7 linked regions of the Homo sapiens genome follow. The protein of the gene in region 4 purifies or fractionates together with the protein of the main gene of each other region. This does not show direct contact. Each region holds a gene or a part of one and is shown on either strand. Other genes may lie near its edges. The genes, in order: BLTP3B, ZNF496, KIAA0232, FBXO10, MTFR1L, TOMM70 and PRDM1.

Region 1 (4,077 bases), on a different chromosome or scaffold from region 4:
TATTCTATAAAATTAAACTTGAACCAGGTAATTTCAAAAGTTCATTCCTTCCTGAGTAACTATAATTTATCACAACACCTGCCTTCTTTTGTCAATTACGAGCTGCCTTTAGATTTCTGAATAACTATTTTTCTTAGGAGATGACAGCAATTAGCAGTAAGATTAACTTATTAACCAAAAATAAAAATTTGATACTCTTTAGTCACCTGAGTTAAGGATGTTTTGAAATATGAAATAACTGAAAACTCAAGTGTCCCAAAAACTCATCTCTGAAAAAAAAAAAAATCCTCATCACACTATTTATCACACAGCTATTACAAATCATACAGATTTAGAAACTAACCCTAAGGGCCAGGCACGGTGGCTCACACCTGTAATCCCAGCACTTTGGGAGGCCAAGGCAGGCGGATCACCTGAGGTTGGGAGTTTGAGACCAGCCTAACCACCATGGAAAAACCCTGTCTCTACTAAAAATACAAAATTAGCCAGGCGTGGTGGCGCATGCCTGTAATCCCAGCTACTCGGGAGGCTGAGGCAGGAGAACTGATTGAAGCCAGGAGGCAGAGGCTGCCGTGAGCCGAGATCATGCCATTGCACTCCAGTCTGGGAAACAGAGTGAGACTCTGTCTCAAAAAAAAAAAAAAAAAAAAAAAAAATATATATATATATATATATATATAAAATAAAATAAAAACTAGCCCTAAAGACTCAATTTTCAATATATGGGTGTTTTCTATCTCATGCAGTAAGCCATTACATCTTTGTTCTTAATTTTTTTTATTATACTTTGGTATGCATGCTCTTAATTTTTAAGAGCCCCTCTCAAATGGAGTTCTATAAAAGAATTAAACTCTAATGCACTATCTGTTGATTGAATTAACTTTTCTTCCAAGCATCTAGAGTGGTACTAGCTATGCAGCATCATCCTTGGACGAGTGAGAAAGTAGGCATTCAAATCATTTTCTGCAGATCTGTATTTTCTTGTGGAGCTGGGTATGAGAAAGGCGGGAGGACATAAATTAAAAATAGATAAAACCTTCCAAAATAAGATAGTTCAAGATTGGGCCATATATATAATTTTAAAAGAAACTTTTCAATGAGTGATAACATTAAGAAATACATATTCATGCAGGGCGTGGGGGCTCACACCTGTAATCCCAGCACTCTGGGAGGCCGAGGACCGCGGATCACCTGAGGTTGGGAGTTCAAGACCAGCCTGGCCTGGTGAAACCCAGTCTCTACTAAAAAAATACTACATATATACACATATATATGTGTAGTGTATACACATATATATGTAGTACACATATATATGTATGTGTATATATGTGTATATATGTATATGTATATATGTACATATGTATATATATGTACACACACACACACACGCTGCTATACTTTGCTACTTTTAAGAAAAGTGCTATATCTTATTCAGTATTATAAGTGAGGAAAATATTTGCTGAATCACAGAAGTAGAATTCTGTTCCCAATATATAACCTGTGGTATAAGACAATCTGGGGAATCAAGAATTATGTTTACTATACAAGTCTATAATCATACCCGTGTCTTCCCAAAATTAGTTAAAATTAACTTACAAATCGAACAGAAAGGGATCCTAACCAAGGGCTTTGAGTTCGCTGGTAACAACTTGGAACAAGAGCCTACATTTAGCCTGTGTCTTGAGACAAACACGGAGAAGCCAAGAGCAGTAACAAACTGCCAGCCTTACTGAGTCATGTTTCTGACTAAAACCGCGTTATGAAATGGAGAGAATGACATGTCTTGGGTTTAATCACCACAGATGTTAACTCCCTGAATTTTAGAGTTGCAGAGGAAAAAGAGCAAAAACCAAAAAAAAAAAATGTTCAGTAATAATGATGTGGGTCTCATAGGACTCCAGAAAGAACCTGCCAAAGCTGCGAACTCTGCTTATTTACCTAAAACAAATCCTAACTGTGCAAACAGGCACACCCTCTGATGCCACAGAGCGGGAACGCCAAGGTGGGAGGAATTCAGAACAATCACAAGGTTAACGTTCCACTGAGAACACAGCCTCCACTGAGCGTCCACACTGCGCCAGAAGCCCTCGGTTAACGGAACCGCTCTGCTCCAAGGGGAAGGAGCACCGAACTCGAGTTAGAGCCCAGCACATTAACCAGGCACTTGGGTGACGCCAGGCCACCTCCAGCCTCCGCTCAGTACCGCACAGAGCCGAGCCGGGACGCCCCCAGACGCCGCGCCGGGAGCGATCCCAGCCCGCCGCGCTCCGCACTCCGGGCTCCTCCGCGCGCCCACCCTGGGAGAAGACGCGTCAGGGGCCGATTCGTGAGGCCAGCCCCCGGCGCCGCCGGCGACAAGAGATCCGGGGCCGCGACCTCTGCCCCGGCCAGAGCGGGGAAGTCCGAAGGTCGCCTCCCGCACAGCCGCCAGGCGCCGCCGCCCCCGAAGCCGCAGGCTGACTCCAGTGCGGGCTGGGGTGGAGGCCGACTGGCGCCGACACCGAGGCGCTCACTGACCTGGAGAGGTGCTTCAAGATTTGTTTCTTGATGATCCCGGCCATGGTACCGAGGCTGGAGACGCCGCGGTCTCGTCCTGTTGCTCACTGCCTCCTCTCTTCGTGGCCGTCTCCTCTCTGTCCCGGCTAGCCCGGCCGGCGGAGAGGCGCTGATCGCTCACGACCGGGAGAGACCCAAGGCCCCGGCCAAGGCCACAGCCGCCGCCGAGAACCCGGAGCATCACGCTCAGGCCGCCACGGCCGCCGCGGGCGCCATCTTGGCTGCAGCATCACCTAAGAGACTCGGTGGAGGGCGGGGGCGGGGCGGCTCCAGGCGGGGCCGGCACGAGGCGGGGCGGGGCCAACGCCGGCTCTGGGCGGGCTCTGGGCGGGCTCTGGCTGGGCTCTGGCTGGGCTCTGGGCGGGGGCGGGAGGTTTGTGGCATTGGCGCCAGGGTTCTTAGCCCTCGCGACACAGGGCCCTTGACTCTCAATACACCATCCTTCTTGGCCTTAATCCTCCCTCCTTCCCTCTGCTGGTGTTCCCGCCTCCATCGCTGACCCGTCGCTGATTTTTACTTCCACGTCCTACTTCCCTTATTCATTTCCTCAGAATGTTTTTTATTTTTTTGCTTGTTTGTTTTTTTTTTTGAGACAAGTCTTGCTCTGTCACACAGGCTGGAGTCCAGTGGTACGATCTCGGCTCATTGCAACCTCCACCTCCAGGGTTCAAGCGATTCTCCTGCTTCAGCCTCCTGAGTAGCTGGGATTACAGGTGCGCACCACCACGGCCGGCTAATTTTTGTATTATTAGAGACGAGGTTTCACCATATTGGCCAGTAGGTCTCGAACTTCTCACCTCGTGATCCACCCTCCTAGCCTCCCAAAGTGCTGACATTACAGGCGTGAGCCACTGCACCCGGCCTCCTTAGAATGTTTTAAGAATCGGCCATTAACTCCTGTGCTTGCTTTGCTCTCTTGACCTACTCACCTTTCTTCATATTCTTCCTTAGGTTTTTGTTTTTGGTGTTTTTTTTTTTTCTTTTGTTAAGGTGTCCTGCCTTTCCCTTACCTAAATGTGGCAATTTAATGTTTCCTTTGGTTATTGCTATTCTAAGGGAAGTAAAGGTTGACAATGGTTCCTAGTAGTCTAGGACCTAGGAATTAGAAGGTGTATAATTCAAGTCCTGGCTCTGGTATTTTCTAGCTGTGTTATCCTGGGGAAAATAATTTCTTTACTATTAGTTTCATTTTAATCATCTGTGAAATAGATTAATCATCAGCCTTACCCACTTCACTAGGTTGAACCTAAAGGTGTAAATATCATATGAAAAGTTCTGTAAGGAAGGAAGGAAATTGTTGAACTAGGGAAAACTGTTACAATTCTACACCTCCACCCCACCCAATCCCAAACAGAGCTAACATTTTCAGAGATTAAAATGACGACTTCTGTCATCCCAGCACTTTGGGAGGCCGAGGCAGGCAGATCACTTGAGGTCAGGAGTTCAAGACCAGCCTGACCAACATGGTGAAACTCTGTGTCTACAAAAAAAAAATACAAAAATTAGCTGGGCATAGTGGCG
Region 2 (3,500 bases), on a different chromosome or scaffold from region 4:
TTTTACCTCCCAGTTTTATTAAGCTATAATTGACAAAAATTGTATGTATTTTGTATACGAAAACTGTACAATGTGATAACTATACATTGTGAAATGATTAAATTAAGCTAATTAACAAATCTATACCTCATATATTTTTGTGACGAGAACATTTCTTATTTACTTTCTTAGCAATTTTCAAGTATAAGATGCATTATTTTTCATCAACCTCACCATGCTGTACCATAGATCTCCAGAATTTATTCATCTTACCTAACGGAAACTTTGTACTCTTTGACCGATGTCTCCCAGAGGGGGTGTTTTATTTTTTAGAGGTGGGTTCTCGCTATGTTGCCCAGGCTGGTCTCAAACTCCTGGCCTCAAGCAATCCTCCTGCTTCAGCCCCCTGAGTAGCTGGAACTATAGGCATGAGCCACCATGCCTGGCTAGGAGGTGGTGTTTTAGTTCTGCTTCCTCACACCTGCCACCTTCTGGGATATGTAGCTATCCCAGATATTCATATATATATGAATGGAGATGCCCCCTAACTGGGTAACCTGGCTAACTCCTTCCCATCCCTAGCCCTCCCTTCTCCAAGTTTAAAATCATGTTGGCCGGGCACAGTGGCTCACGCCTGTAATCCCAACACTTTGGGAGGCTGAGACATATGTATATATATATATACACACGCATATATATATATACACACACACACACATATATACACACACACACACATATATACACACACATATATATACACACACATATATATACATACATATATATATATACACACATATATATATATATATATGAATATGTAGTCCCACCCTACTTTTGGCCCCGATAAATGAATACATGGACCCTTTCAAGAATCACTTCGGAGAGTTGCAGACCCTACACAAAATCTAGCTTTTGGGGAAGATCTTCAAGATGAGGAACTATACAGCTCTGATAGGTAGTGCATTCCAATGATGAACTGTCCCAATAGTTAAGGTTTTCCTGATTGCTAACTCTCATCATACCTACTTTGCCTATTGATTATTGCTCATGGAAATGGGAGAGCTGGCCCTGTTTTCCTAAAGCCCATCTGTGGTTGCTGGCTTATCTCAGAACTTTATCAAGAAGCAACTGCACAGGCTACTGTAGTTCCTGAAACTTCTTCCTCTCCACCTGCATGCCTTCCCAGACCCCACTACAAGGCCTCTCACAGCCCCCCACTTCCTGCATAACCCAAGCTACTTGCACGTGCATTATGTGGGCGACTGGCTGCTTCCCTTATACCTGTTGTTACAGGCTAAGTTATGGCCCTCTCAAATTCCTATGTTGAAGCCCTAACCCTTAGGTACCTCAGAATGCGACTGAGTATTTGGAGATAGGGTCTTTAAAGAGGTCATTAAGATAAAATCAGGTCATATGGGTGGGCCCTAATCCAATAGGACTGGTGTACTTATAAGAAGAGGAGATTAAGACACAGACACACACAAAGGAAAGACCACATAAAGAGACCCAGAGAGAGAAGGTGTCTGTTACACCTGCTCTGCAAACTTCTCTTAGTGTAAACATCTTCCTCTTCCTTTCCCTGAAAGAAAACCGCCCGTCATCAAGAGTCCTGGCACAAAGCTTGTTGTCAGCTTTCAGGGCCGGATATTCATGGGTTTTTACGGGTCCCAAAGAGAGCCAGTGGCATAAGAGACTTCCCCTCCTAGCTCCTTTTTTTTTGTTTTGTTTTGAGATGGAGTTTTACTGTTTTTACCCAGGCTGGAATGCAATGGCGTGATCTCAGCTCACTGCAATCTCCGCCTCCCAGGTTCAAGTGATTCTCCTGCCTCAGCCTCCCGAAAAGCTGGAATTATAGGCACCCACCACCACACACAACTAATTTTGTATTTTTAGTAGCGATGGGGTTTCACCATCTTGGCCAGGCTGGTCTCGAACTCCTGACCTCAGGTGATCCGCCCGCCTTGGCCTCCCAAAGTGCTGGGATTACAGGCGTGAGCCACCGCGCCCAACCCCTAGCTCCTTCTAAATGTCTATCTGCAAACTTCTCTTAGTGTTAACATTAGGCATGTCTACAAGCCAAGGAGAGAGGCTTCAGAAGAACCCAAGGCTGCTGATACATTGACTTCAGACTTCCAGCCTCCTGAACTGTGAGAGAATACATTTCTGTTACATAAGGCATCCAGTCTGTGGTACTTTGTTATGGCAGCCAACAACACACCAAACTTGATTTATAAGCAAGAAAAGGCTGAAGAGTTTATGTGATTTGTACAGAAGTCAATATAGTTTTTCCACACACAGAAATTTAATAGGCATTTTGGTTTTATTACTGAAAAGCTTATCATAATGCCAAACACAACTTCTGCAAGTCATAAGAAAGTCTCCCCTGGCCCCCCAGACACTCTCTTTCCATTGTACCTATAGAGCACTATGGCAAGTCCACCCAGAGTCATAAGAAAGCCCCCCTGGCCCCCCAGACACTCTCTTTCCACTGTACATATAAAGCACCGTGGCAAGTCCACCCAGAGGAACCCACGGGCCAGACTTCCTTCAACCCAAGGGCGCTGGTTTCCCATGATATGTACTTAAAGTTTTGGGCACCTCAGGCCTTGTGTTCAACCTTTTGTAGGTTGTATCTCATTTAATTGTCCAAAAACCCCAAAAAAGGTAATTACTATCTCTGCTGGACAGAGGAAGAAACTGAGGCTTTCAGAGTTTAGAAACATGCCTCAGGTCATAACCAGAAGATTCAAATCTAAGTTTATCTGATGAAAAAACTACTTTCCTGTAGCTACCATGTACTTCATATACATACTCAAACTATGTGTAGCTGATGTTCTGGCCCCACACACTAGACACCACCCTGTGTCCTCCTAAGTATTTCTACATCTCTTCGCAGCATCACAATACTCCTGTAAACAGGAGTTGTTTAGCCAAGGAAACAGAGGTTCCAAGAGACAAGAAATGGCCATGCTCCAGTCATGCAGCAGGCCCCAGCTGTACACTGGCAGTCCCCAGCTGTCATCAAACTGACAAATCCTGCAGAGATGCACCCTCGAAGAGATGAGAGGGCACCACCTCAGTGACACCCACCTACAGAAGCGTTAGCTCTGAGAGGCTCTAGAACCATGAAGAGGACAAACATCCTGATGAGGTTCTCATTTAATTGCTCTAGGAAGGGACTCAGACCCTGACAACAGCTCACAGCACCTCGGGGACACGAGAACACTGCTGATGTAAAAGCCATCAGCTTAACAAAAACCACACCCAGTGCACAGTATGGGGTGTGCACTTCCCCAGATCACCCCTGCTACACTCCCCTGGGCTGCATACCTGGGTCCCCGCTGAGCTGGCTTGGTGGTCTGCTTGGGAGCCCCAGGCACTGTGCCAGGGTTATGGGCTGGGCATCCTGGTTCTTTGCAAGGTCGCTGTGGGGCTCTACCGGCAGCTGCTCCTGCTCCTGGTCCAGAGGGCTGTCCCCATCATCAATCACCACAGGGTCTTCACAGTGCTTGAGC
Region 3 (3,500 bases), on a different chromosome or scaffold from region 4:
ATCTTGCTTCTTTCCTCTTTTTCTTTCTTCCCAATCTGGAACCAGGTGAAATACAAAGTACATAAAGGAATATTTAAGGATGAAAAATGGGGCAATAAACAAACAGATAAAGGCTAACAATATTATTGGGTTTTTTCTTAGCAGTGTTTCAATGGGATTAAATTCATCCTCTACGGGTCTCTAGGTAGCTGATTAGAGCAGTGCCTCTCAAGTCGCCTGGGGGCTTCCTAGAATCACAGGCAAGCAGTCCCACACCTGGGCACTCTGATGCGACAAATAAGTAAGGCATGGTCCACAGCCACAAGGAGCTTATAGTCCAGGATATAAATAACTCATGAGAAATGAAAAATGCAATCAAAAAGAGGCATAAAGTGCATGAAAATTAAGAGAGGGGCAAAATTAATTCTGATGCAGAGTGGGGCTGGAGCAGGGGAGAGAGGGAATTAGGGAAAGTGTCAGTGAAGGAGGTGGTATATGAAATAAGTCTCATGGTATGGGTAGGATTTGGATGTGCAATGGTGGGTAGGGTGTGCAGGACAGTTGGGAGGAAGTGCAACACTCATCTGCTCTCTGGCCACAGGTGGCATGGCTTCTAAACACCTCCATCTCTTTTTTTCAATAAGCTGGGCCGGACGCGGTGGCTCACGCCTGTAATCCCAACACTTTGGGAGGCCAAGGCAGGTGGATCACTTGAAGTTAGGAGTTCAAGACCAGCCTGGCCAACCTGGTAAAACCCCGTCTCTACTAAAAATACAAATAATTAGCCGGGCGTGGTGGCGCATGCCTTTAATCCCAGCTACTTGGGAGGCTGAGGCAGGAGAATCACTTGAACCTGGGAGGTGGAGGTTGCAGTGAGCTGAGATCGCACCACTGCACTCAAGCCTGGGCGACAGAGCGAGACTCTGTCCCCAAAACAAAACAAAAACAAAAACAAAATTAAATAAACTATTTCTGGAGAAAGGCTAGGCACTCACATATCGAAAACAGTGGAAAAATGGGCAGACTGCTGTGCTTTTTTTGTGAAACAGTTTATTGTCTTAAGTGTTATTTCTTGTACAATCAGTTTAACCTTAAGCCATTTCTTGGGCATACAGTGGAGAGGTACAATGACTCTCATTAACACAACTTAATGTGATCCTCATTCCATAGCCTTAACATATAATCCACACAGCTTCTGGAATATGTACTTTGTATAAAGCAAGATACATCTGTATAGGTTCTGTAGAAGAAATTTTGTTGCATTTGGGCTGTGGGTGAATTTCTACATGTACCACAATGTATTTTTGAGAACTCCATAGAGATATAATTTGTTTTATATGTAAAACACAAGTTTTGATAAAGTGATCAACTTCTAAGAGTCAGTTAGACAGGTTTGCTACACTTTAATAGCAGCCACTTCCTGATTCATCAACTTTGAATGTTAGAACACTTTCATGTTAGGTTTTTGCTTTAAGCATAATACATGTATTTTTTTTTTTTTTTTTTTTTTGAGATGGAGTCTCACCCTGTCACCCAGGCTGGAGTACAGAACACGATCTCGGCTCACTGCAACCTTTGCCTCTCGGGTTCAAGTGATTCTCCTGCCTCAGCCTCCCAAGGAGCTGGGATTACAGGTGCCTGCCACCACGCCTGGGTAATTTTTGTATTTTTAGTAGAGACGGGGTCTCACCATGTTGGCCAAGCTGGTCTTGAACTCCTGACCTCAAATGATCTACCCACTTCGGCCTCCCAAAGTGCTGGGATTACAGGCGTGAGCCACTGCACCCGGCCAATAACATGCATCTTAAGACAACACATAGGAATCTTACATCCTGTGATTTTTAAAAGCTTTTTCTCTCCAGAAAAACTCTACTGTCTAGTTCAAATTCATAAATATCAAATCCATTTTAAGTCCTTACATGTAAAATTAGAACAATTTAAGTTTTAAGACATTTAAGCTAATTTCCCAATAATTTAACCCTATCTTTCATTGACTGGCATGTCTGTTCTTGGGTTAAACTCTGATCAAATCCTTTTGTCAAATACCAACACGCAGACACATACCTCTTCCAGCTGTCCCGAAGAAACTGGATTATCTTCATAAGCAGGAAACTGACAACCTGCTTTGCAACCACAAAAATTATTAATTTCTTCCTCGCATTGTGCCATTATTTTACAATTTGCTTCTGAGCTTTCTAAATCTATTTCCAGGGATTCATTCATGCTACATTCCAAACACTGATTTTGCTTTCCTACTGAAAGAATCCCAGTTGATTCCTCCTGGGAATCCAGTGATGTCTGAGCACTCTTTTCCATCCCAGATTTTTTTAACCTGGGAAGGAATTTTCCAGACTCAAGCTCTGATTTTCCATAGTAATGGCCTTCTTTCTCTGCATCTTCTTCCAAAGGTTTGAGATCTGCCTGCGGATCTTCAAATATATCAACTTGAGAAGGAATGGGAATATTTGCTTCATCTTTCTCAGATTCAAATTCTGACTCGCTTCCTCCTCCTGGGGACAGTTCGGATGCAGAAATTGGGCGAAAGTGAGTCCGAGGAGAGATCCGAATAGCCCTGTATTGTGTTCTGTCAACACCACATATCCTGGGGTGAAACACTTCACTGTCTGAATCAGAACAGAGGATTGATTTCGGTTTAAAACTGGGGCTGAAAGATGCAATCCCTTCAGGTTCAAATGAGCATTCTACATGAAGAACTTGTGAAAATGGATTGCTTAAGTCAAAGGAAGAAAATGAGTATTCAAGTCCAGGATCTTCGACTTGAAAGTTGCCACAAGCTCCTAGTAAGTCTTCATGGAAGATAAAAGAAAATCCCTTATTTAACCCATTTTCCCCACTCTTCGGCTGATCATTCTGTTCAAATGACACGAAGGGTTTCCATAACTGCCTGTGCCCAGGAGCAAAACTGTTTCCTGGGGTCATAAAGACATCTGTACCAGCTATCGTCACAACATCAGAAGCTGCACACTGTAACAGACTTCCTTTTGTGTGACTAGGTGGTACGACTGCCCACTCCCCATCACTATTGAAGGTTTTGAGTTCTCCATAAACTCCTCCAAGAATGAATGTGTTTTCTTTATCTTGGGCTACATCCCAGGGTTTAGAGGGTGTTGTATAATCACCACCATCCACGTTTGATAGCTCACTAGAAGCAAATGCTCTTTTCTCCAGGCTCTCTTTCTGTCCCTCCCACAGATGGTACTCTGACCTCCGCACAGCCTTATCAGGCTCCTGAAGGGTCTCCAGTTCAGCTTCAGCATCTAGACAGCAGCAGTAGTTATTTACATCTGCCGAAAACAACTCAGCATCAGTTCTTTCTATTTCTACTGTAGCCACAGAATTTGTGTCTGCCATCTTTGTCCAAATGTCTTTAATAACCCCTGAGCTGTAGCCATCTCCATGTGGACTTTCATTACATACTTGTGTAGTTTCAAAATTTTTGTTTTCTGTTTTTTGTTCTAGCTGAATACCACAGACGGATTCTAGTTTAGATGTTTTTTTGA
Region 4 (3,495 bases):
CGGGTGCGGTGGCTCACGCCTGTAATCCCAGCACTTTGGGAGGCCGAGGTGGGTGGATCACCTGAGGTCGGGATTTCGAGACCAGCCTGGCCAACATGGTGAAACCCCATCTCTACTAAAAATACAAAAATTAGCTGGGCATCATGGCACGCAACTGTAGTCCCAGCTACTCGGGAGGCTGAGCCAGGAGGATCACTCGAACCTGGGAGGAAGAGGTTGCAGTGAACCCAGATCACACTACTGCACTCCAGCCTGGGTAACAGAGCAAGACTCCGTCTCGGAAAAAATATATATATATATTAAAAAATAAAAGTAAAAACAAAAAAAACCCAGAAATCCTGCAGTATGTAGTCTTTTGAGTCTGGCTTCTTTCACTTAGCCTAACATGCTGGAGATTCATTCATGGTGTTGCATGTAAGGCGTTCATTCCTTTCAATTGCTGAGTAGTCTTCCCCTGTATGGGTGTACTGCACAGTTTATTCACTCATCAGCTGAAGCGTATTTAGGTAGTTTCTAGTTTTTGGTGATTATGAATAAAGCTTCTATAAACATTTGTGGTCATAGAGCTGAAAAGAAATGAAAGAGGAAAAGCTGGCACCGTGGCACACACCTATAATCCCAGCTACTTGGGAAGCTGAGGCAGGAGGATCACTTGAGCCCAGGAGTTTAAGACCGGCTTGGGCAACATAATGAGACCCTGTCTCACAACAACCACCCTATGATCTTATCCAGATCCTTATTTAAAGTGGAGAAGTCGGCTGGATGCAGTGGCTCAAGCCTATAATCCCAGCACTTTGGGAGGCTGAGGTGGGAGGATCACTTGAGCCCAGGAGGTTGAGGCTGCAGTGAGCCATGATCGTGCCACTGCACCCCAGCCTGGGCAACAGAGTGTCTCAAAGCGGGAAAATTGAGGCCTACAGAGGGACCTTGTCCAAGGCTACATGCAGAGTTGAAGGCAGAGCTGGACGTGGAATGCAGGGCTTTTGCTCCTTAGTTTCTCAACAGCCCACCTCTTTGGACTAACACTAAACTGGAAGATAAAACCTACACCCAGATTTAAACACCTGGATCCACCGATCTGGAACCCAAGTTAAGACTGTGCAGGGCATTCAGCCAGCACTGCACACCCCTCAGAAGTTCACTGACTTTCGTTTTGCACCTCCAGGTCTGATACGTGGCGCCTGGTGAACCCACCAGCACGGCCCCACCTTGAAAATTCTCTCAGACGTCCCTCGGCAGCCCACAATGGGCAGAAGGTGACAGCCATGGCAACGAGGATCACAGCCCGGGTGGAAGGTGGTTACCACAGCAACCGCAGTGTCTTCTGCACCATCCTGTGAGGACACAGACCTGCTTCAGGGCCAAGCCTGGATGGGTGCTCAGAGGAGCTAAGGTGGAAATACTGCCTGAAAAGACTCCGCCCCTCCCCCTCCCCCTCGAACAAATGGGTCCCGGGCCTCCAAAACACGGTACCTCCAGAACACTTCAGCTCCACAGCCCATAGCAAGAAGAAAGTGGGCAATGTTTTTCAGGGAGAAGGGATAGAAGCTGGTGGGTTTCCAGTCACTCGAAGTCTATAAAGATTGTGAAGAGCGGGGGAAGCTCAAATGCTGAAGCTTTTGGTCAGGATTTTCTCTGAGTTCTAAGGAACTGTGTTTTACACACACCAAACCCAGACTCTTCTCAGGAAAGAGCAGATTTACTTCTGATGGCGGGAAGTGATTCTAGTGAGGTGGAGAGAGACAACTGCTCCAGAATTTTCCCCTTTGCTAGAGCTGTCTCCCTCTCAATCCCTCCAGGGACCCCACCACACCCTCCCAGCTGTCTCTGGAGGCTGGAGGAGTTGAGTTTGGTTGACTTGAGGACTTGGACATGGACCTGGGAGGAAGGAAGGACCTGGGAGCAACAGGAGACCCCATGGAAAGGCTGCCCCAGGGATGACAAGAGGGACATGCTGAAACAGGTGGGGCTGCAGCGTGCAGGCAGATGCTAGGCTGGGTGGGCAGGGATGCACAAGGCTCTACTCCATCCCCAGAGAGCTCCCAAATGCAGAAGGATTCAAACCCCATGTGAGCGTGCCCACACCAGCCGCCCCTCCTGAGCATCAGCCTGTTCAGATGAGGGTACCTGGGCCTCTCGTTCGCATCTGTGTTCTCATGGATGAGCGCTGGTCTTTACTGACCCTCCCAAGCCTCCCCACTCTGTGCCTTGGCTCATGCTCTTTCCTCCTCCCGGCATGCCCTTCTCCCCCATCTCCGTGTCCTCGTTCCTCAAGGTTTAGCCGAGACACTGCCACCTCCACATAGCTCTCCCTGCCCTCTTTCCCCCTCTGGGCCTCAGTGGCCTTTCTCTGCTCCCTCTCAGGGTACTGAGCACTTTCTGCCTTGTCCTGGAGCTATCTGGGTCCATTGCCTGACCCCCCACTCACCTGTGTGCTCCCCGTAGGTAGGGCCACTTCTGACTGTGTGTCCCCAGATCCAGCCTGGGGTTGGGGTAGGATTAGTGGCCTGAGTGAGGAGAGGAAGGCCAGCTCCCAGAGGACTTTACTGAACCGTACTGTGAATATGTCCAAGTCCCAAAGCCAGGTGAGGTCAGACCCCACTGCCTGAGGAAGAGGGCTGGATGCAGGGCCAGCTCAACCTGAACAATCCCCTCCCACTCGGCCTTTCCTGTGGGGCCTTCACCAGCCTGCTGGGGTCACTGTCGTGCACTTGGCTGCGTGGCTGGTTCTATTGGCCCTAGGTGCTGCTCTGTTGGGTGGGATGGGAGGGGGTAGAGGGAGCCAGGAGCACTGGGTTCTCCCTGAGAACACTGGGCACAAGAGTACTGGCCTCTTCTATCCCTGGCACTGTCCTTTGCACTTGTTTGGTGGCCCCAATGTGAGTCGCTGTAAAAAATGCTGCCGTTACTATTTTCTAAGAAATGACTTTTCTGTGAACCAACAGTAACAAAAACCTCAGTAACCAAAATAAAGTTCTATATTTTAAAAAAGGCACTTTTGGAAGCCTTTCCTTAGTCTGGGCATATACTGGGGCTCCCAGCTGGCCAGGCCCAGCACTGTTTCCTCTGAAGGAGACAGGAGAATCCTGGGGCCATCTTGTTGGGTCAGCTTGTTCCTGTGACAGTTCCAGATATAGGGCTGAAGGGCTCAATCGGGCTATAATTCCACTCCTGCCTGCTCTGTGAAGACAACAGAAACAGGCCGTCCCCATGGATCACTGGACTGTCAGCTTAGGGACCTCAGACCCCGGAGCACACTTCCCCAACTTCACTTACTCAGCATCTTAGAATTTTTGCTATATCCATATGTCACCTGAGAAGTTAGTACTTTTTTCTTTAAATCTACTTAATTTTTAGAAGTTTTAAATATGCAGAAAAATTGAGCAGACAGATGATTACTAGAGTTCCCATATCACCCTTGCCACCCCCGAGTTTCTGTGTTATTAACATCTTATGCTATCAGTGTACATTTGTAAAAATTCATAAACTAGTACT
Region 5 (3,500 bases), on a different chromosome or scaffold from region 4:
TGGTGACCATTAAATCCCCACTGTGGGGGGTTGTTTCACAAGAGGGAAATCTGGTGCTCCTCCAGATGGCCTGATATGAAGGAGTCACGCCTCCCGCCTCCCGGAGCTGCCCAGTGGCTGCCTTGTCCTTCAAGTGCAGGAGCTGGTTCAAATGTCAGGAATGGAAGCCACTGTGGTAAGGGGCATTCCCAGGGCAGGGGTATGGTGGGGAAGGTTGGGTGCTGGGCCTGCTGAAGTACTGTAAAAGGTTCTGAGACTCTCCAGTTGAGCACTCCTTTCTCCAGAGGCCTGGAATTGGAGCAAGGCCACCGTTTCACTCCCTCCCCCTAAGAAGAACCAACTATGATCCTGGGGCACTTCAGGAGTCAGTGTATGTCTGCCTTTCTGTACAGAGGACGGGAAGGAAAGCCTGGATAATCTCTACACTCAGCTACTTCCTCTCCCCTTCCCTGACCCTCCCAACATTGACTGCCTTAGCAGCAGCAGGTATTCCCTTGGGTGGCTGGCCAGGGTGTAGGCTGGCAACTGGGGAACCTGCCCTCACTATAATTGAGAGTTGACTTGCCCCTAGAGAGTGCCCTGTCCCTAGGTTTGTGGAATTCAGTCTCCACAAACCTAGAGAGGAGAGGACAAGGACAGTAGTTGGATTCATTCTCTGGGGTTGTAGCTGTCTCCGTCTCTTTGCTCCAGACCATCCCAATCTGGCAAAACAAGCCACATGGGGCTGCTCGAAGTGTAGTAAGAAGAATTGGGACCAACCTACCCTTGAAGCCGTGTGCCCGGGCGTCCTTTGAGGTGAGTATGTTGGAAGGGCAGGAGAGTAGAGGCTCAGACAGTGCTGCTTCTGTGCCCCAAACCCCTTGGTACTGCCCAAGTAGGTTGTTTCCTGGTCACTTTTCATTCTGTTATGAAATATTTGTTAAATGCTTATAAGATATCCTGGTCACTGTGTCCTCCTGAGTGCATACAAACCTGTGACCACAAGGAACCTGACAGGTCCCCCACATGGGACACTGACTATTGTGATTTTTGAGTTGAACTCTGCTTTTCTTCACCAGCCCTAAGAATTGACCATGTAGCCAGTATTTTTATTTTATTATTTTTTGAGATGAGGTCTCCCTATGTTGCCCAGGCTAGGTCTTAAACTCCTGGGCTCAAGCAGTCCTCCTGCCTCAGCCTCCTATGTAGCTGGGATTACAGGCACAAGCCACCATGCCCAGCTCCACTATTTTTAGTGTTTCTCTGAGGCCATAATTCCTCAGCCTTCTCTTTTTGGCCAATCTGGGCATCCTTTACTGGGGTGCTTTGGTCTTACCTCTGTGTCTAGGGATCCTTTAGCACCCACTCAGCAGCAGAGATTCCTACCTGGCCCAGGTCTCTTGAGACCCCTTCTGTGGTAGAAAGCTAAGTAGCATTTATTAGTCCCAGCTGCCTCCCTCTAGGAACTAAATGGTTAAGCACCAGCCCCAAACTATATGGTTCAGATGTGTGCATTTGGAGAGCTGGGATACAAAAGAAATACTTGTGCTTTCTACCCACACAGAGGAGATAGAAATATGTGCATGAAAGGATGTGGGCCCAGGTAGAAACAGAAATGAAGGAGCCAAATCTGTATAAAAGATGCTAAGAAGCAGAGTCTGTAGGAACTGGATCTGGAATTAGAAGAGGTGTCAGGGTTGGTATTAGGGTCAGGAATGGAGTTGGAAGTGTCGCAGGGGTAGGGGGCAGGAAAAGCTGTCCCAGTATTCAGATTGCCAGCTATCCAGAATTGTCTAAAGATCCTGGGCAGGAACTGGTCCTAACTTGCCTCAGAAGCATCAGAAAAAAAAAAGGGAGACAGCTAGGGAGTGTGGCTCACTGCATAGAGGCCGTCCCCACACTTGGCTATACCCTCTTCAGTTCTTTGGCCAGATGCTGGGCAGAGACAATCAAGGGCACAGGCTCTCACAGAGCAGGAATGTATGTGAGCAGTATTGGTAATACTAGATAACATTTACTGAGCACATACTATGTGTCAGGCACTGTGCTGTACTTTATATTTGTTTACTCATTTAATTGCCAAGAGCAAAGGAGCATTCAGGGCTAATCAGGAAAACAAATGGAGGCTTCCCCCAAATGCCCTATTTTAGCACTAGTTCCTGGGTCACTGGAAGTTCTTCTCTGTGTGACCTTGGAGTATCACTTAACTCCTGTGAGTCCCAGGTTTCCTATCTAAATGCAGGAGCGATCAATCCTGGATCCATCTACCATACCAAATAATTTGTAGCAGAAACAGTTGAATCTTACTTGTGTGTAAATATGCATTTATTATTATTATTAAATTACCTTAAATATTATTTAAGGGACTCTTACCAATTTATTTTGAAAATTTAAGCATATGAAAATATTAAAATTATGAAAAGTAAAAGGAAAATAAATTACCTATAATTACATAGTAATAATACAATAACTATTAATGTCTTAGTGTAGTCCTCTTTTTCTAGATGGATGTTTTTTACTTTGTTGTAATCACAGTCAACATGACTGAATCCTAATTTTTCACTTTACTCAACATCTCTAGGTTGAGGAGCTATTTTAAGAAATCCTATTATGGTTCCTTTTGTATAATCATTTATTTTTATTTAAATCTAAATATATTCAAATTTTCAGGTTTGTTTAAAACAGCATTGCTGTAACAATGTAGATCTCAATTAGCTATACAGGATTATAAAAAGCTAGTCAGGAAAAATTTCCTATTGCTGTAACAGGTTGTGGATGACCTTGTACTTGTATTTTCACCAGAGGGCACAGTGGTTTTAGACAGTTGCCATCTCTACTAAAAGGTGACTCAGGCCTTTTCCACTGAAGACACAGAACTGTTTGTAATCCCATAGACTCTCATGTGTCTTGCCTGTTTTTGTTTTTGAATGTGGCTCTGTTGTCCACGCTAGAGTACAGTGGTGCAATCTCAGCTCACTGCAACCTCTGCCTCCCAGGTTCAAGCCATCTTCCCACCTCAGTCTCCTGAATAGCTGGGACTACAGGCGTATACCACCATACCCAGATAATTTTTGTATTTTTTGGTAGAGGCAGGGTTTTGCCATGTTGCCCAGGCTGATCTCAAACTCTTGGTCTCAAGCATTCTGCCTGCCTCGGCCTCCCAAATGCTGGGATTACAGGTGTGAGCCACCATGCCTGACTGTCATCTGGCCTCTGTTCAATGTTTTCGACCAGGAACCTTCTTCTGCCCCCTCTAGGAAGCCTTCCTGACACCCAGTGCCGGATTAGGTACCCCTCCTGTGTATTCTGCAGTTTCTGATTGGCTCATCATGGCATCTGTAAATGTTGATGACTTTTGCTTCTCCATAGACCCTGCCCAACATCTCTGACCTGTGTTTGAGAGATGTGCCCCCAGTCCCTACCCTGGCTGACATCGCCTGGATTGCTGCGGATGAAGAGGAGACATATGCCCGGGTCAGGTAGTTGAGGCAGTAGCTGGTCTGCTAAGGAATGGAGAACTT
Region 6 (3,500 bases), on a different chromosome or scaffold from region 4:
ACAGACACAGACACACACACACACACACACACACACACACACACACGTATATACTTTTTTTTTTTTTCTTGAGACAGGGTCTGTCGCCCAGGCTGGAGTGCAGTGGCACAATCTTGGCTTGCTGCAACCTCCACCTCCTAGGTTCAAGTGATTCTCCTGCCTCAGCCTCCCGAGTAGCTAGGGCTACCAGCGTGCACTACCACATCTGGCTAATTTTTTAATTTTTAGTAGAGATGGGGTTTTGCCATGTTGCCCAGGCTGGAGTCTTATATGTTTTTAATTTCAAAAACACTCAGACTTTTTCAAAAAGGCTGCAGTACTTTAAAGTTTTTAAAGGATTTAAAGTGCGCAAAGGATTTCTAGGAAGCTCTAAGTATCTAAGATCAGAATATTATATAGCTACTTTAAGCTAGCTAGTGTCAACCAGAATGTATATTTTAAAACTGATGTGGGAGGATGAAAGGAACCAAGACAAGCACATATAAATTAATAGATGAACTTAAAATCTTCCATTTGTCAGTAGACTTAATTATGTTCCAAAAGCTTTGAGACATAAATTTAATTTCAAGGATACATATGTTTCAGGACTATGAATATGTGCCAGGACTAACAGAGACTGCTACAGGACTGACAGAGAAACACCCACAAAACACCCACAATAAAGCAAAACTAGGAATCCCTTATGTAGTTGTGGGCTCTGGGGGGCAATCGTCAGGGTGATTGCTAGAAAACTTGCATTTGAGACAACCTCAACAATCCTCCCACTCCACTGGAGGAAGCAGAAATCACATTAGAGTAGGGCTGTGTCATTCAGGAGTGAGGATCTTCTATATGAGAGACAAGTGGCCAGGTACCATGGCACACACCTATCGTTTCAGATACTTGGGATGCTGAGGCAGAACTGCTTGAGCCCAGGAGTTTGAGATTAGCCTGGACAACATATTGAGACATTGAGACCAGACTCTCTTAAAAGAGACAAATGACAGTGACAGGGCATACCATACCTTGCCTCTGTTTTTTAAGAGACCACACAATCGAGAATTGCTAACAAAAGGGAAAAACAACCCATAAAAAAAGAGGCCCCCAACTCAAATATAAAAGTAGTATCTGAGAAAGCAGGATATACCAAGCAAACAAAAAATTTAGTTTCAAAAAAATGAGAGGCTATCTTCCCATCATTAAAAGAGGTTGCTTTTAAAGAGCACTAATTAGAAATCTTAAAAATGAAAAAAGATTATTACAATTAATTCAGCAGATTGGCTGTATATTAAAGAAGCGAGCTGAGGAGCAAATTAACAAGTAGAGAATGGGGGAAACCTGACAGAATGCCATGGAAACAGAGGACAGGGAGGTGGGAAGTTTGGAGAAATTAAATGACATGAAGTATAAATCCAGAAGTTCCATCATTTGCCTATGTGGAGTTCTAAAAGGAAAGGCATAGAAAAAAAAAATCTAAGGAATTGGAGAAATTCTCGGAGTTGAAGAAAAATGACATGCATTTTTAGACACATCATGGTGAAATTTCACAACAAAAATCCTGAAAGTATTTAAAAAGAAAAACAATCCAGTGCCAGACTGTCACCAACATTTGGTACTAAAAACCAATTAAGTAACAATTTCAAAGTTCTAAAGCAAGATTATTTTGTAACTAAAGTCTTATACCTAGCTAAACTAGCATTTGAGGTTGAACACAAGAACAGAAATAGAAATGTACAGCTTCCTTACCACTAAAAATAAACCCCCAAATAGGGAAATGACCAATACAACAAAAAGCAGAAAGGAAGGAAAAATAAGAAACAAAAAAGCAGAGTAAATATGGCAGTAATTGCTAAACATGTAAATAGTAAAAATAAATGTGAGTAGTTTAGAGCCCTGCATTGAAAGACTTTCAAATTGTTTAAAACCAAAACTAACTACCTGCTGCCTATAAGGCATGATGTAAAACCAAATGACATACTAAGGCCAAACAATTTTTTTTTAAAAAAGGAATGTAAAAAGTTGTGGAAGGTGAATACTAAAAAATAAAAATTAAGGTAATATAGACAAAATACCATTCAAAAGCATCACATGATGTCCAGATAGTTTTACTGATAAAAGGTTCAATCTGTAAAAAAGGCACAATAATCATGAATCTTCATTTATCTAATAAAGGTTTAAAATAAACTCAATTGGCTGGGTGCAGTGGCTCACGCCTGTAATCCCAGCACTTTGGGAGGCTGAGGCGGGTGGATTACCTCAGGTCAGGAGTTCGAGACCAGCCTGGCCAACGTGGTGAAACCCTGTCTCTACAAAAATAGAAAAATTAGCCAGGATGGTGGCAGGCACCTGTAGTCCCAGCTACTCAGGAGGCTAAGGCAGAAGAATCACCTGAACTCAGGAGGCGGAGGTTGCAGTGAGCCGAGATCACACCACTGCACTCCAGCCTGGGAGACAGAGTGTGACTCCATCTAAAAAAAAAGAAACAAAGGAAACAAACTCAAGTATCATTGTCTCATGCACCACTGGCTCCAAGACAAAAGGTCATTAAAGTTAAAGACAAACAGAATCATCAGGATAATTACATCTTTTTCTTTTTGCCAAGCAAGTATAATTGAATTTATTTTAGTTGATATGATTCTACTATACAATAACCAACAGTGTAGTCTTTATCCTGAAGGACCATACTGTAGACTAGTGTAGGAAACAAACAACCGTCAATCTCGCAAAAGAACTATTACTGATAGAAACACTAAAATCCCATTATGAAAATGTACAGTTATACACCACATAACAATGTTTTAGTCAATAACAGACTGAATATACAATGGTGGTCCCATAAGATTATCATGGAGCTGAAAAATTCCTATTGCCTAGTGATGTCACAGCCATTGTAATGCACTACTCATGTATCTGTGGTGCTGCCGGTATAAACAAACCTACTATGCTGTTAGATGTATAAAAGTATAGCATATATTGGGGCCGGGTGCAGTGGCTCATGCCTGTAATCCCAGCACTTTGGGAGGCCAAGGCAGTAGATCATTTGAGATCAGGAGTTTGAAACCAGCCTGACCAACACGGTGAAACCCCATGTCCACTAAAAATACAAAACAATTAGCCAGGTGTGGTGGCGAGCGCCTGTAATCCCAGCTACTCAGAAGGCTGAGTCAGGAGAATCACGCGAACCTGGGAGGCAGAGGTTGTAGTGAGCCAAGATTGCGCCACTGCACTCCAGCCTGGGAAACAGAGGGAGACTGCATCCCAAAAGAAACAAAAACAAAAACAAAAAACAGGCTGAGTGCGGCGGCTCACGCTTGTAATTCCAGCACTTTGGGAGGCTGAGGCGGGTGGATCATGAGGTCAGGAGATCAAGACCATCCTGGCTAACACGGTGAAACCCCGTCTCTACTAAAAATACAAAAAAAATTAGCCAGGTGTGGTGGTGGGCGCCTGTAGTCCCAGCTACTCAGGAGGCTGAGGCAGGAGAATGGTGTGAACCTGGGAGGCGGCGCTTGCAGTGAGCC
Region 7 (3,500 bases), on a different chromosome or scaffold from region 4:
GCTTTTGGATAAATTAGAATTGGACATATATTTCTTCCTGTAACATCCTGAATTCAAAACTCAAGGTAGCTCCTCATATATATATATACTTTTAAATGATCAAGTTTCCTAATAGTTAATAGGGACTCAAAAAATGTTTTTCCTCTTCCTAGTCCCTAGCTTAAGCCACCTACTTCATCCAACACATGACAAAGCCGTATAATTAAACAACATGTTATTAGTTCAAAGGGGCAGAACCGACATTACTGGCATTTTTTATTTTTTTGTTCTGTAATCCACTTACTGAGATTCATCATTGTCAGCTCTCCGGGATAAGGGTAGTGAAGCCTTTCTGCAAAGTCCCGACAATACCACACAAGAAGTTCCTGGTTGGCAGGGATGGGCTTAATGGTGTAGAAGTAGATGTTCATCCCGTTCTGACACGCAGCCAGGTTTTGCTCCCGGGGAGAGTGTGCTGGATTCACATAGCGCATCCAGTTGCTTTTCTCTTCATTAAAGCCGTCAATGAAGTGGTGAAGCTCCCCTCTGGAATAGATCTGTCCAAAAGAGAAGACAGGCATGTAAAAGGAAGTCAGACCCAAAGCTCCCCAGCACCTCTCAGAATAAACACAGCCGGTACCGTGTGTGATTTCTGATCCCCTACTGCCTAGTTAGAAAAAGAATCCAATCAGTTTAGCCAGAATAGTCTTGAATCAGCAGAAATCAGGGCGGAAACAGGTAAGGCACACTTTTGTCAGTTACCTTTTCCATTTCAGTTTTATCGTCTTTTCATGTTCGGGAAAATAACAGAAAAATGAAACACAAATGTTCATTTAAGGAGCTGCCTCAAACCGATTAACCCACCACAGAGTACTACTTTTGCTACTGCAGTGAATGGCAAATGGGCGATGCTACTGACTTCAGTTCCGATTATGCTGACTTTTAGTGCTTTGAGTCACTGGGTAGAAGACCAAGCCGGCTGACGACGTCAAACTGAGTCTTAGCTTTTTCTATGGCCTCTGTACTCGCCGTTTCCTACACCCCCGCCCAAGGCTTCAACTATGCAAACATCCTCCACCCCCAACCCTCCAAGTCCTAAAGTAACACTTGTTCATATGAATACTTGGAACCTTGCCTTTTTGTGGAAACACTGGGTGGGGCAAAGGTGAACTTCACCTGCCATAACAAAGCGAACACTCGGGCAGCAGCCCGAATTTGACAGTCTATTACTGAGAAGTCACTTTTCCTCTTGATAAACATGTCCAGACTTGCACTTTCCTTTCAATGCAAAGGAGGGAAGGGAACCCCTTATCTGGGAGGAGGCTGGCTAAAACACCACACACAGAGCCATAGGCGTGTGTTTTTGGAAAAAGAACAGGAAGAAAGTATGTTGTTCCTTAAAGGCAACGCAGAATGAAGAATTTGAAGTTTGTCCTAGAGTAATACTACTTCTGGATAACAGATGCACTCAGGCTACTTGGCAAAGAGGCAGAGGAAGAAGAAAAATTAAAACGTACACTCTTACTGAAACTATAAACACACTCCTTATCCTTCCACACAAAGTTTTCTCTCTTCCCCTCTTTTTAGGAGGTACCACCTTTACTTTAGACTTTAAGAAATTTCCTTATACAATCAGTCAATACCTAGTGTGATCTGCGACTTGCAGTCTCCAAGCAGCAGTAAGGCACTGTTCGTAGCAGGAATTTTGTGCTCACCGGACAGCAGGTTATTGCTTTTCCTTACTCACGTACCGACTATGCTAGTCTACAGATAGTTTCTGTATTTCGCTCAAACGTTATCAGAAATAAAAAGGAACTCTGTCCCTTTAACACAGGCGGTAAACACCAGAATCACTTTCTTTTAAGAGTAACTTCCTGTAAATTGTGAAGGGGGAAATACATGTGGCTTCATCAAAGCAGCTTGTGAGAGCTTTTGCGGTGTGTTTTGTTAAGAGAAAATGGAACAAGGCTGGGTGAATTCTGCTATCAAGAGGGGTTTTCAAGTTTGTTTACTCTGATGTGCAAACTTCCAGGAACATGGGGTTCCATCGCTCTTGTACTCTTCGCTGGTGCGGAAACTGCTTTCTAAAGCTACGGGTATGTTGATTCCAGTTAGCCTTCCTCGGACTGCAATTTACTGTATCCTCATTTAAAAACAGCAATGTCGGTGCCATGAAGTCACTCACACAGAATAAAATAACGCATATGTAAAATGAACACCGTTTCCTACCACCTTCCTGCACTTCCATATATTATCTAGAAGATTAAAATGCGCTGATTCATAGTACAGTTACAAGAAATGTCACTGGTTTCTCAACTTGAACATCCCTTCTTTGGCAGTGTAATTTGCATGAAACTTTTTCTTTCCTCACAACAGATGTTCATATTCCTGCCAGCAAAAACGAGATGTTCTACAATATCCTTTGCATGTGAAAGACTGATTCAAATAAATCCTCCCAAGGAAAGCCTTTCAGTTACTTACAGTGAATCTTTAAATGAAACAGGGAACTGGACAGTGAGGGGGAGATTCTTAGGTACTTCTTGCCTTTTCTCAAAATAATCACACATTAATGAGACTTATGCTGGATTGTCTTAATTCAGACCTTTAACTCCAAGAACTATGCACCTTTGTGGCTCACTTCTGAGAAGACGTTATTGACAATAAAGGCAAAAATGCACTCATGGTTCCACCATTGTAAGTCAGGTGATTAATATATTTTAAGGAGGAATAATTATTAAATAAAAATTGTGAGCACATGATTCTTAGTGAATCTGTAACTACCCTCTTTTGCTTGGGAAATAGTAAGATAAATTTCTAAAAATGAAAAACTTCCTGGATTAAAAATATTGTTTCTTAGGAATAGCTTCTTGTCCGAACGATATAATCGTTCTAGGCAAAAATACCAGCTAAAGCAAGCATAACACAATTTTTGTTATCATGCAGCTGTTTCTTTTTAAAGAATTCAAATAATGTACATTTCATGTAAGTATGCACAAAAAAACGCTTACTAAATTCTTTATCTTCTGAGGAAACTAAATATCCCTGAGACATCTATGGGAAGAAGGAAAGCAATCTGACTTTTTTCTGTTCACTGCTAATCCAGTGTTTTATTCAAGGATTCCATCTAATTGGTTCACCTCTGGGGGCCTTTCTAACCCTAATATAGCAAAGGAAATTGTACTGGCTAGATCTTTTGGTTGGATGCTATAGGAAAGCTTATCATCTTGCATATGACTGTTAAGCATTTTCCTTATGCTATGAGATAATTAACCTATTGTCAAATGGAATCATTTTACCATGCACATGTATTTAAATAGGACTAGTTCTGTGGTCCTCCATTCCCCTCAACCCATCTTCCAGCTATCCTTCCTTAATGGCATTTACTTATAAGGTAATTCATTTGTCATTCCTGGCTGGGCGCGGTGGCTCTTGCCTGTAATTCCAGCACTTTGGGAGGCCAAGGTGGGCGGATCACGAGGTCCAGAGATCGAGACCATCATGGCCAACATAGTGGAACCCCG

The links.
Region 1: the proteins of FBXO10 (region 4) and BLTP3B purify together in Homo sapiens (affinity purification with mass spectrometry; one large-scale study listed by BioGRID and IntAct). This does not show direct contact.
Region 2: the proteins of FBXO10 (region 4) and ZNF496 purify together in Homo sapiens (affinity purification with mass spectrometry; one large-scale study listed by BioGRID and IntAct). This does not show direct contact.
Region 3: the proteins of FBXO10 (region 4) and KIAA0232 purify together in Homo sapiens (affinity purification with mass spectrometry; one large-scale study listed by BioGRID and IntAct). This does not show direct contact.
Region 5: the proteins of FBXO10 (region 4) and MTFR1L purify together in Homo sapiens (affinity purification with mass spectrometry; one large-scale study listed by BioGRID and IntAct). This does not show direct contact.
Region 6: the proteins of FBXO10 (region 4) and TOMM70 purify together in Homo sapiens (affinity purification with western blotting; one study listed by BioGRID). This does not show direct contact.
Region 7: the proteins of FBXO10 (region 4) and PRDM1 purify together in Homo sapiens (co-immunoprecipitation; one study listed by IntAct). This does not show direct contact.

What each region holds. Positions count from the first base shown.
Region 1 is NC_000012.12:100,140,075-100,144,151, forward strand, and holds the start of BLTP3B (bridge-like lipid transfer protein family member 3B), read right to left. Parts: upstream 2,801-4,077; 5' UTR 2,562-2,800; coding exon 2,518-2,561; intron 1,692-2,517; exon of another isoform or gene 1,597-1,691; intron 1-1,596. UniProt on the Homo sapiens protein: Tube-forming lipid transport protein which mediates the transfer of lipids between membranes at organelle contact sites. Required for retrograde traffic of vesicle clusters in the early endocytic pathway to the Golgi complex.
Region 2 is NC_000001.11:247,325,368-247,328,867, forward strand, and holds part of ZNF496 (zinc finger protein 496), read right to left. Parts: intron 3,500-3,500; coding exon 3,316-3,499; intron 1-3,315. UniProt on the Homo sapiens protein: DNA-binding transcription factor that can both act as an activator and a repressor.
Region 3 is NC_000004.12:6,862,727-6,866,226, reverse strand, and holds part of KIAA0232 (uncharacterized protein KIAA0232), read right to left. Parts: coding exon 2,044-3,500; intron 36-2,043; coding exon of another isoform or gene 1-35.
Region 4 is NC_000009.12:37,510,392-37,513,886, reverse strand, and holds the end of FBXO10 (F-box only protein 10), read left to right. Parts: intron 1-1,165; coding exon 1,166-1,340; 3' UTR 1,341-2,995; downstream 2,996-3,495. UniProt on the Homo sapiens protein: Substrate-recognition component of the SCF (SKP1-CUL1-F-box protein)-type E3 ubiquitin ligase complex. Mediates the ubiquitination and degradation of BCL2, an antiapoptotic protein, thereby playing a role in apoptosis by controlling the stability of BCL2.
Region 5 is NC_000001.11:25,822,954-25,826,453, forward strand, and holds part of MTFR1L (mitochondrial fission regulator 1-like), read left to right. Parts: exon of another isoform or gene 1-65; 5' UTR 66-151; coding exon 152-175; exon of another isoform or gene 176-653; intron 654-690; coding exon 691-795; intron 796-3,348; coding exon 3,349-3,458; intron 3,459-3,500. UniProt on the Homo sapiens protein: Mitochondrial protein required for adaptation of miochondrial dynamics to metabolic changes. Regulates mitochondrial morphology at steady state and mediates AMPK-dependent stress-induced mitochondrial fragmentation via the control of OPA1 levels.
Region 6 is NC_000003.12:100,387,590-100,391,089, forward strand, and holds part of TOMM70 (mitochondrial import receptor subunit TOM70), read right to left. Parts: intron 1-3,500. UniProt on the Homo sapiens protein: Acts as a receptor of the preprotein translocase complex of the outer mitochondrial membrane (TOM complex). Recognizes and mediates the translocation of mitochondrial preproteins from the cytosol into the mitochondria in a chaperone dependent manner.
Region 7 is NC_000006.12:106,096,336-106,099,835, reverse strand, and holds part of PRDM1 (PR domain zinc finger protein 1), read right to left. Parts: intron 1,748-3,500; exon of another isoform or gene 1,623-1,747; intron 896-1,622; exon of another isoform or gene 751-895; coding exon of another isoform or gene 742-750; intron 537-741; coding exon 284-536; intron 1-283. UniProt on the Homo sapiens protein: Transcription factor that mediates a transcriptional program in various innate and adaptive immune tissue-resident lymphocyte T cell types such as tissue-resident memory T (Trm), natural killer (trNK) and natural killer T (NKT) cells and negatively regulates gene expression of proteins that promote the egress of tissue-resident T-cell populations from non-lymphoid organs.